Linked DNA regions of Homo sapiens: region 2 is linked to region 1. Evidence: fine-mapped expression QTL. A gene starts in region 1. The other region holds a variant in brackets. All regions are shown on one strand. Distances are between the middles of the regions. Region 1 holds the start of NPLOC4 (NPL4 homolog, ubiquitin recognition factor). Region 2 overlaps NPLOC4 (NPL4 homolog, ubiquitin recognition factor).

Region 1 (5,369 bases):
GGAGGCTGAGGCAGGAGAATCGCTTGAACCCACGAGGCGGAGGTTGCAGTGAGCTGGGATCGCGCCATTGCACTCCAACCTGGGCGACAGAGGGAGATCCGACTCAAAAAAAAAAAAAAAAAAAAAGAAAAGTAATTCCAAACCACCACCCAGTCTGTGAGAGATTTTGTTATGTTATATTTTCTTATAACTGAGATAATTATTACAGTTAAAGAGATCGGACTTAACTGAACCCATCTTGCTTCTAACCTCCAAGCTGTCCTTGTTCATTCCTGGGTGTAGGCTGAAATAACTTCGGGAGGCGCTTAGTTTATAGTTTAGCTTTGAAACAAAGATGGTAACAGCCCTTTGCAAAACAAACTCCCTTCCTACCTGGGGACAAGACTGCCTTTTCAGGACTAACAAATTAGCCATAAGATTAGAAATTATGGTTTAGGAGTCATGTAGCTGGAGGCTACAAGATTCTAAACCTCCCAAATTGCTTCTCAGGATAACATCACTATTAAAAAACAGATCAGCGCTTGAGATATTTTGCAGACTCTGCACTCCATGGATCAGCTGGCACCACCCAGATTGATAAACTGGCTCATATCTTGTGGCCCCCACCCAGGAACCGACTCAGCACAAGAGGACAGTTTTGACTCCCTATCATTTCACCTCTGACCCAACCAATCAACACTCCCTACTTTCTGACCCCATACCCACCAAATTATCCTTAAAACCGCGGATCCCCAGCCGGGCACGGTGGCTCACGTCTATAGTCCCAGCACTTTGGGGAGGCCCAGGTGGGCGGATCACCTGAGGTCAGGAGTTCAAGACCAGCCTGACCAACATGGAGAAACTCCGTCTCTACGAAAAATACAAAATTAGCCAGGCATGGTAGTGTGCGCCTGTAGTCCCAGCTACCCGGGAGGCTGAGGCAGGAGAATCACTGGAACCCAGGAGGTGAAGGTTGCAGTGAGCCGAGATCGCGCCACTGCACTCCAGTGTGGGTGACAGAGTGAGATTCGGACTCAAAAACAAAAAAAAACAAAAAACAAAAAACTCTGATCCCTGAATTCTCAAGGACACTAATTTTTTTTGAGTAGTAATAAAACCTCAGTAACCTGTACAAGCTGGCTCTGTGTGAATTAAACTCTTTATTGCAATTCCCCTGTCTTGATAAAGTCTAGGCAGTGGGCAGGGACAATATGTTGGGTAGTTACAGTGGCACCCTGAGCAAACTAATACAATTACTAACATAATTTAATCAATTAATGTAATTTAACATAGTTTAAAAAAACTGTCACAGTAATTGTGATGTTGTGAAATATGTATACATTTAGTCTTCCGGTTTCCTGGTATCCAACTCCAAAAATCCTTAGAATCTGTGAAGTGACGTCTTTTTTTTTTTTTTTTGAGATGAAGTCTCACTCTGTCGCCCAGACTGGAGTGCAGTGGCACCAACTCAGTTCATTCTAACCTCCGCCTCTTCGCTTCAAGAGATTCTCCGGCCTCAGACTCCCGAGTAGCTGGGATTACAGGTGCCCGCCACCACGCCCAGTTAATTTTTGTATTTTTAGTAGAGACGGGGTTTCACCACGTTGGTCAGGCTGGTCTTGAACTCCTGACCTCAGGTGATCCACCTGCCTCGGCCTCCCAAAGTGCTGGGATTACAGGCGTGAGCCACCGCGTATGGCCTAATTTTGTATTTTGAGTAGAGACGGGGTTTCACCATTTTGGCCAGGCTGGTCTCGAACTTTTGACCTCAGGTGATCCGTCCACCTTGGCTTCCCAAAATGCTGGGATTACAGGTATGAGCCACCGCGCCCGGCCTGAAATGCAGTTTAAACTCGTTTGTTTTTCTTATGTTAAATTTAAAAAATACTTAAAAAAAAAAACATGAAGGTGTGATCCTGCCTTCCTGAAATTGTTTCTCTACTTACCTGTGCATGGAGAGAAGTTTGGAATGCTGTTTCCCCAATTATAATACGCTATAATACGCAGCAGTAGTTATTTTTGGGTGAGACTTCGGATGCTCGTCTTTGCTTCCTTTTTGGACTTTCCTGTGCCGCTTGGGTTTCCGAGGACGAGCAGAAGTAATCTCAGACGCAACTTTCCAAAATCCCCTCCTCCAGTTGCAGGGATGGCGGGGGCGGGTCAGCGGCGCCGCCCTGCGCATGCGTCGAGCCGTTGGTGGGGCCGGAACCTGGTTTCCCGGCCTCGCGCCCGAGGGGAGCGTATTGAGCGAGGCACCGGGACGTCGGCGGCTGGCGGAGCCGGGCGGGCGAAGCTGGAGCGGCGGTGGCGGCGGCGTAGGGAGGCCGGGGCCGGGGCTGAGGCCGCGGCCGGGTCTGCGAGGCCCTTGGGGCGGCAGGCGGCGGCGGCCCGGGGCTCGAGCCCGGAGGCAGGAGCAGCCGCCATGGCCGAGAGCATCGTGAGTGCGGCGGCCGGGCGGGAGCGGGGACGCCGGGATGAGGCAGCAGATTTGCCGGCCTCGGCCTGTGGGGGAGGCGGGCCTGCCGGCGCCGCGACTCGGCCCCTTTCTCTTCTCTCGCCAGGGCTTTCTCTGTAGTGGCTGGGCCCCTCTCGGGGACTTTCACCCCCCTCGGCTGCTTCCCGTCCGTGTCCCTCCCCAGGGGACTTACGACCCCGGTTCCCCGCCCTGGGCAGGGAAAGGCCGAGCCTTTCTAAGCAGGGAGAATGGACTGTGGCGAAGAGAAACCGCCCTCCTTCCCCACCCGTTTCCCGGCTCCAGGAGACTTCCTGGTCTAATTCCAGGGACTCCCAGCCAGTCCTGCCCCTCTCAGAGCCAGGGACACCTCTTATCCTAATCTCCCTCTGATTCTCTCCTCCTGCTCTCCCGCTTCCCAGCAAGTGCCTTGTCATGAGTCACTAAGGAGAGCAGCTCTGCAGACGGGGACGTTACAGAGCTCCCTCCCCACCAGAAGACCTGGGAAAATGAAAACACAGTAACTTGCCGGCTTTGCTCCTTACTTGGAAGGACAACTTGACAATTCCTCTTTAAAAGGAATGTTGTAAATGATGTTGATTTCACTTTTTACCTGAAATTGAAATTGTCGGCCCGGCGCAGTGGCTCACGCCTGTGATGTCAGCACTTTGGGAGGCCGAGGCGGGTGGATCACCTGGGGTCAGGAGTTCGAGACCATCCTGGCCAACATGGCAAAATCTTGTCTCTACTAAAAATACAAAAAATTAGCCGGGCGTCATGGCGCACTGTAATCCCAGATACTTGGGAGGCTGAGGCAGGAGAATTGCTTGAACGCGGGAGGTGGAGGTTACAGTGAGCTGAGATCCCTCCATGGCACTCCAGCCTGGGCTATAGAGCGAGACTGCGTCTCAAAAAAAAAAAAAAAATTGTCACACACTCCTCCTTAACGTAAAAAATATCAGTGACAAATCAGAAAACCAGTCCCTCGTTAAGTTGTGAGAAGTTTCTTCCCAAAAGTAAATGTGATGGGAAAAAAACTAACTGACCATTGGACAGGAGCATTTTGGTTAATATTAAGGAAGATTTGGGATTTCTGGGGGAAGCTTAGCAGTATTGGGTGAAGAGTAATGTTCATACTGTAGCATTGTGACAGTCTCTGCAGTTTTGCCAGGTGTTGTCTAGAATAGGTCTCCAGGCCCGGCGCGGTGACTCACACCTGTAATCCCAGCACTTTGGGAAGCCCAGGTGGGTGGATCACCTGAGGTCAGGAGTTCAAGACCAGCCTGGACAACATAGTGAGCCTAGGTGGCGTCACTGGACTCCACCCTGGGCGACAGAATGAGACTGTCTCACACACACAAACAAATGGGTCTCCAGGAGAACCTAGCACTTATTTGCAAGGCTGTTCTCTGGTGGTTCCATCATCTCTCCAGTCAGGGGCCCTCTTGGTGCCTCCATGTTTCCCAACCTGGAGATGAGTGGAATGAATATATGGCCCAGGAGAAACTTAGGAAACGTCGACTCCTTTTTTTTTTTTTTTTTTAACCTTATTTTATTTTTTTGAGATGGAGTCTCACTCTGTCGCCCAGGCTGGAGTTCAGTGGTGCGATCTCTGCTTACTGCAACCTCCGCCTCTCGGGTTCAAGAAATTCTCCTGCCTCAGCCGAGTAGCTGGGGTTGCAGGTGCTCGCCAACACGCATGGCTGATGTCTTTTTTATTTTTAGTGGTGATGGGGTTTCACCGTGTTGGCCAGGTTGATCTCGAACTTCTGACCTCGTGATCCGCCCGCCTTGGCATACCAAAATGCTGGGATTACAGGCATAAGCCACCGCGCCTGGCCTTTAAATCTTTTTAATTAAAAACATTTTTTTATAGAGATGAGGTCTCTACTATGTTGTACAGGCTGGTCTCTGAGCTCGAGGGATCCTCCTACCTTGGGGTCCCAAAATTGCTAGGATTACAGTCCTGAGCTACCATGCCCGGCCAAGAAACCTTTGACTCCTTTGAAAAATAAAATGTGGCCATGCAGTGGCTCACGCCTGTAATCCCAGCACTTTGGGAGGCCGAGGTGGGCGGATCACGAGGTCAGGAGTTCAAGACTGGCCTGACCAACATGGTGAAACCCTGTCTCTACTAAAAATAAAAAATTAGCCGGGTGTGGTGGCATGCACCTGTTATCCCAGCTACTCTGGAGGTTGAGGGAGGGGAATCGCTCAAACCCGGGAGGTGGAGGTTGCAGTGAGCCCAGATTGCGCCACTGCACTCCAGCCTGGGCGACAGAGCAAGACTGTCTCAAAAAAAAAAAAAAAAGTGTTAATCATTGGTGACTTTGCCTAGAAATAGGTTAGGAATTAGCACTGAAACCTTCTTTCAAACTACCTTTGTACTTTTAACTGAGTTAAAATAACCATTGACAAGTGAAAAGTGTTTCAGACAAGGCCATTTTTTTTTTCCCACTAGTGTATAAGGCTAGGCTCTCATTGACAGCATTGGATCTCGTTGAATGTCTCAGATTGTGAGGAATTAAAACACTCTTCTTTTGAAATTGATTTAAAAAGTTATTTTGAATTTAAGAAAGAGATCTTTTGAAAAGTTTCTGGGCTGGGCATGGTGGCTCACACCTGTAATCCCAGCACTTTGAGAGGCCGAGGCAGGTGAATAATGAGGTCAGGAGTTGAGACCAGCCTGGCCGACATGGTGAAACCACGTCTTTACTAAAAATACAAAAATTAGGGCGTGGTGGCTCACGTTTGTAATCCTAGCACTTTGGAAGGCCGAGGCAGGTGGATTGCCTGAGCTCAGGAGTTTGAGACCAGCCTGGGCAACACGGTGAAACCCCACGTCTACTAAAAAAAAAAAATACAAAAAATTAACCGGGCGTGGTGGCGTGCACCTGTAGTCCCAGCCACTCAGGAGGCTGAGGCAGAAAAGTTAGAA
Region 2 (5,369 bases), 76 kb after region 1:
ACTTGACCCAGGAAGCGTAGGTTGTAGTGAGCTGAGATCGTGCCACTGTACTCCAGCCTGGGCGACAGAGCAAGACTCTGTCTCAAAAAAAAAAAAAAGATGTGGTCTTGCCATGTTGCCCAGGCTGGTCTCAAACTCCTAGGCTCAAGTGATCTTCCTGCCTTGGTTCCCAAAGTGCTGAGATTACAGCTGTGAGCCACTGCACCTGACCTTTTTTTTTTCCCCCCTCCTTTTTTTTTTGAGACAGGTTCTCACTCTGTCACCCAGGCTGAAGTGCAGTGGCATTTGAGGTCAGTCTCACCTTGACCTCCCCAGGCTCAAACAATCCTCCCGCCTCAGCCTCCTGAGCAGCTGGGACTACAAGCATGTGCCACCATCCCTGGCTGATTTTTTAAATTTGTTGTAGAGATGAGGTCTCACTATGTTGCCCAGGCTGGTCTTGAACTCTTGGGCCCAAGCGATCCTCCCGCCTCAGTGCTGAGATTGCAGTGGTAAGCCACCATGTCCAGCCAACTCTTTAATAATAGGCAGTTCTGACTGGTGTAAGTTCTGACTGGTATCTCACTGTGGTTTTAATTTGCATCTCTGATGATTAGTGATGTTGGGCATTTTTTCATGGGTTTTTTGTTTGTTTGTTTTGAGACAAAGTCTTGTTCTGTTGCCCAGGCTGGAGTGCAGTAGTGTGATCTCAGCTCACTGCAGCCTCCACCTCCCGGGTTCAAGCCATTGTCCAGCCTCTGCCTCCTAAGTAGCTGGAATTACAGGTGGCTGCCACCACACCCAGCTAATTTTTTTAGTTTTAGTAGAGACAGGGTTTCTCCATGTTGGCCAGGCTGGTCTCAAACTCCTGACCTCAAGTGATCCACCCACCTCGGCTTCCCAAAGTGCTGGGATTATAGGTGTGAGCCACCGCGCCCGGCCCTCATGGGTTGTTTTGTTTTGTTTTGAGACGGAATCTCACCCTGTCACCCAGGCTGCAGTGCAATCTCATGATCTCCACTTACTGCAACCTCCACGTCCTGGGTTCAAGTGATACTCCTGCCTCAGCCTCCCGAGTAGCTGGGACTACAGGCGTGCACCCACGCCTGGCTAATTTTTATATTTTTAGTAGAGATGGGGTTTCACCATGTTGGTCAGGCTGGTCTGGAACTCCTGACCTCAGGTGATCCACCTGCCTCGGTCTCCCAAAGTGCTGGGATTACAGACGTGTATACACAAGACACAAAGATCAGCTCAGGATGGGTCATAGGCCTAATGGTAAAAGGTAAAACTATGAAGCAGGCTGGGCATGATGTCTCATAGCTATAATCCTAACACTCTAGGAGGCCAAAGCTGGAGGACACTGTAGCCCAGAAGTGTGAGACCAGCCCACACAGCATAGTGAAGCCCCGTCTGTACAAAAAAACAATATTAAAAAAAAAAGAATTAGCTGGGCATGGTGAGTGGTCCACGCCTATAATCCCAGCTTCTGGGGAGGCTGAAATGGGAGGATCCCATGAGTCAGGAGGTCGAGGTCACAGTGAGCCATGATTATACCACTCCAGCCTGAATGACAGAGCAATACCCTGTCTTAAAAAAATAAAAACTGTAAAACAGTTATTAAGTTGAATCTCTTCAGGGCCTTGGGGTACGCAAAGATTCTTTTAGGCAGGATGCAGGACCTTGGGGTAGAACACAGAAAAACACTGGCATAAAAATAGGTAAATTGATAAATAAATTTATCTAAACAAAACACTTGTGCTCATCACAGGGCACTGTTAGAAACATGAAAAGGCACCAATGGGGGACGCAGTATTAGCAGTACATACACACAACATGACTTCTATCTGAAACTTAAAAATAACTCTGCCTGTTGTTAATCAAACAGAAAGCAGAAGAAGAAGCTGGGCGGAGGGTGAAACGTTTCACAAAAGGAAATGCAGGTCGGGCATGGTAGCTCACGCCTGTAATCCCAGCACTTTGGGAGGCCGAGGCGGTGGATCATTTGAGGTCAGGAGTTCGAGACAGCCAGGCCAACATGGTGAAAACCCATCTCTACTAAAAATAAAAAAAATTAGCCAGGTGTGGTGGCACGTGCCTGTAATCCTAGCTACTTGGGAGGCTGAGGTAGGAGAATCGCTTGAACCCAGGAGGCAGAGGTTGCAGCGAGCCGAGATTGCGCCATTGCACTCCAGCCTCGGCAACAACAAAAAAAAGGAGATGCAGGAACAGTCACTATCATTAGTCATCAGGGAAATGCAAATTAAAACA[T/A]GAGAAGCCGTTACACATTCATCAGTGTGGCTGAAATGAAAAAAACGCGACAATGTCAAGTGTGAGTGAAGATGTGAAGCAGCTGGGACTCTCGTACCTTGCGAGTGGGAGGCAAAACCGTGCCACCCTCGCGAGAACTGTGTCTCAGGGTCTTAGAAAGTTCAGCACACAATTCATTACCCTGTGGGCCGGCAGATTCATTCCTAGGTAGGTTTTTTGTTGTTGTTGTTTGTTTGTTTGTTTGTTTTGAGATCTCGGCTTACTGCAACCTCGGTTCACTGCAACCTCCGCCTCCCAGGTTCACGCCATTCTCCTTCCTCAGCCTTCCTAGTAGCTGGGATTACAGGTGCGCACCACCACCCCCAGGTAATTTTTGCATTTTTAGTAGAGACGGGGTTTCACCATGTTAGCCAGGATGGTCTCCATCTCTTGAATTTGTGATCTGCCCACCTCAGCCTCCCAAAGTGCTGGGATTACAGGCATGAGCCACCGCGCCCGGCCTGTTGTTTGTTTTTGAGATGGAGTCTCGCTGTGTCGCCCAGGCTGGAGTGAAGAGGCAGGGTCTCGGCTCACTGCAGGCTTCCCCTCCCGGGTTCATGGGATTCTCCTTCCTCAGCCTCCTGAGTAGCCGGAACGGCAGGTGTCTACCACCACGCCTGGCTAATTATTTTTAGTAGAGACCGGGTTTCGCCATGTTGGCCAGGCTGGTCTCAAACTCCTGACTTCAAGTGATCCACCCGCCTCGGCCTCCCAAAGTGCTGGGATTACAGGCGTGACCCACTGCACCCAGCCTCACTCTTTGTTTTTATCCAAGAGAAATAAAAACACAGGTCCACAAAGAAATTGTAGAAGAATGATCCTGGCAACTTTGTTCATATTAGCTCAAAACTGGAGGCTGGGCATGGTGGCTCATACCTATAATCCCAGCACTTTGGGAGGCCAAGGTGGGTGGATCACCTGAGGTCAGGAGTTCGAGACCAGCCTGGCCAACATGGTGAAACCCTAGTTCTACCAAAAAATAGATAAAATTAGCCAGGCATTGTGGTTCATGCCTGTAATCCCAGCTACTTGGGAGGCTGAGGCAGGAAAACCGCTTGAACCCGGGAGGTGGAGGTTGCAGTGAGCCGAGATCGTGCCACTGCACTCCAGCCTGGGTGACAGAGCAAGACCCTACCTCAGAAAAAAAAAAAAAAAAAAAAAGCTGGAAACAACCCAAATGCACATCCCCCGGGGAGTTACGTTATTCACAAGGAGAAGCACCCTCTGCAACAAAAAGGAACCAGCAAGCACAGGCTCCCTGTTACTCCCTGTGGTGCAGGAGGCATTTTTCTGAGGGCATTAAGCACTTCAAAGTGTGCCTGTGGTGGGAGTGCTGTGTGGGCAGGACCAGCACTGGGTGGGATGTTGGGGGCGGGGAGCTCTCAGCTGCCTGCCCCTGCCCCCATGCCCACACTCTGGCAGTCTCTGGTGGGCCAGAAATGATGAGTGCTCATTTCTCTTCCACCCTGCAGGCACAGTTGGCGGGCAGCTCCCAGGTCTCCATGAGTACGGCGCCGTCGGGGGCTCCACACACACGGCCACTGCAGCCATGTGGGCCTGTCAGCACTGCACGTTCATGAACCAGCCAGGCACAGGCCACTGCGAGATGTGCAGCCTCCCCAGGACCTAGGGCGCCTGCCCTCTGCTGGCTAGGACCGGGCCCAGCCCAGCCCTTCCTGAAGCCAGAAGCGTTGCTGAGTGTGTTCCCTGTAACTGCCCCATAGTGGGCAGCCCTGGAGGAACAAGGGGCTGGCTGTCCTGGGCTCCCTGACCCACTGAAGCTTCTCAGCACGTTCCTCCCTGGAGAGCGGGCGCCACGGCTGGTATTCTGCAGGCTGAATGCAGTCTCCAGACTGGAAACGCAGAGCGGCTCCTCACGCCTAATCCTGTTGACAAGTCCCCCGCCGTGTTGGAAAGACCTCTCGCCTCTACGTGGCACCTGGAATTGGGGCGCACAGGGAGGGGCCGATGCTGCCACCACCCAGCCTTCTCTTTATTTTCAGTGCTTTTTGTTTGGCCTCCCTGCCCCCATGTTTTTCTGGCTGGGAGCTCTTGGTTACCCCCTTGTCTGACTGCTTGGTGGCAGGCACCCTGCCTGTGAGGGCCACTTTCCTCTTCTAGTAGCTGTTGTCTGGTGGGGACGCAGTGGCCCTGGACACGGCTCCCCTCTGCAGGTCTGCAGGTCGGTTTGCTGCCTGCCCTCCTCCTCTCACCCGATGTCCAGGTGGGATTTTAAAGTCTGCATTGGTTATAATAACAGTTATCAGTAATTCCTGCCCAGAAGACTTTTATTTATTTTTTTTTAAGATAAAAACTGCACAAAAGGGGAGTGAGAGAGACTAGTTTCCACATCCTTCCCTCCTTTAGTGAAGCCCCCGAGGTTGTGTCCAGGGTGATGAGTGTGGACGGGGGCACCAGTCAGTTCTCCCTTGAAGTAAACCTCAGTGCCTGAGACTTTTCTACCAAGCCACACAGCTGCAGCAACTGCAGATACTGCGGGCTGAGCAGGAGCAGTGGTGGCGCCTGCCCTGAGGCTGCCCTGCGATGGCCTGGGTGGGAGAGCTGGGTCACCGGTGCCGATGCTCTGGCCCTCCCCAATACGCTGCTTCGTCCCACTGCACCGCCTGGCTGAGGGCGTTAGGGGCTGTGCCTCTTGTGAGGGCCATTTGGGACCTCCCTGGGGCACTGCACAATTGATAGTGTACCAATAGAGGGAGACTGGGCGATCTGGAACAGCACGTGGTGGGGTCCTGCTTGTGTGCTCTGCGTTCCTCTGTGGCGTGGCCAGGCCGGGGCATGGCTCTTACCCGGGGAGTGGTGGGCATCTCGATGCTTCTTTGCCTTAATGATGGCCACATCTGGGCTGCTCTGCACCCACGGGAGAGGCTGGCCCAGCTGCAGACTGCTTAGGGACTTCTGTGTCCATCCTGGGGGGTAAGCCCACGTGACCCACATTCTTGGCACTATGAACAGAGAACATTTGCCTGTTGGCTTCTGAAGTGGTCAGGGCCATGGCTGACACCTCCAGGTCCGCCTGGCATGGGACACCAAGTGGAAGGCCCAAGCAGCTCATCTGCTCT

What was found. PIP is the estimated chance that this variant, and not a neighbour inherited with it, causes the effect.
Region 2: its variant is fine-mapped to the expression of NPLOC4 in whole blood (INTERVAL, PIP 0.98).

What each region holds. Positions count from the first base shown.
Region 1 is chr17:81,633,963-81,639,331 of GRCh38, reverse strand. NPLOC4 (NPL4 homolog, ubiquitin recognition factor) reads left to right here and starts at 2,220. Exons shown (of 17, transcript NM_017921.4): 1 at 2,220-2,416. The coding sequence starts at 2,402. It overlaps TSPAN10 (tetraspanin 10), which reads right to left and starts at 2,136. Exons shown (of 4, transcript NM_001290212.2): 1 at 1,926-2,136. RefSeq lists a silencer at 2,281-2,490.
Region 2 is chr17:81,557,809-81,563,177 of GRCh38, reverse strand. NPLOC4 (NPL4 homolog, ubiquitin recognition factor) reads left to right here. Exons shown (of 17, transcript NM_017921.4): 17 at 3,762-5,369. The coding sequence ends at 3,919. Among named protein-coding and RNA genes, the nearest start is that of FAAP100, 8.1 kb to the right of the region's middle. RefSeq lists enhancers at 2,090-2,189, 3,466-3,965, 3,966-4,467. The variant T/A (reference allele first, on the strand shown) is at 2,251.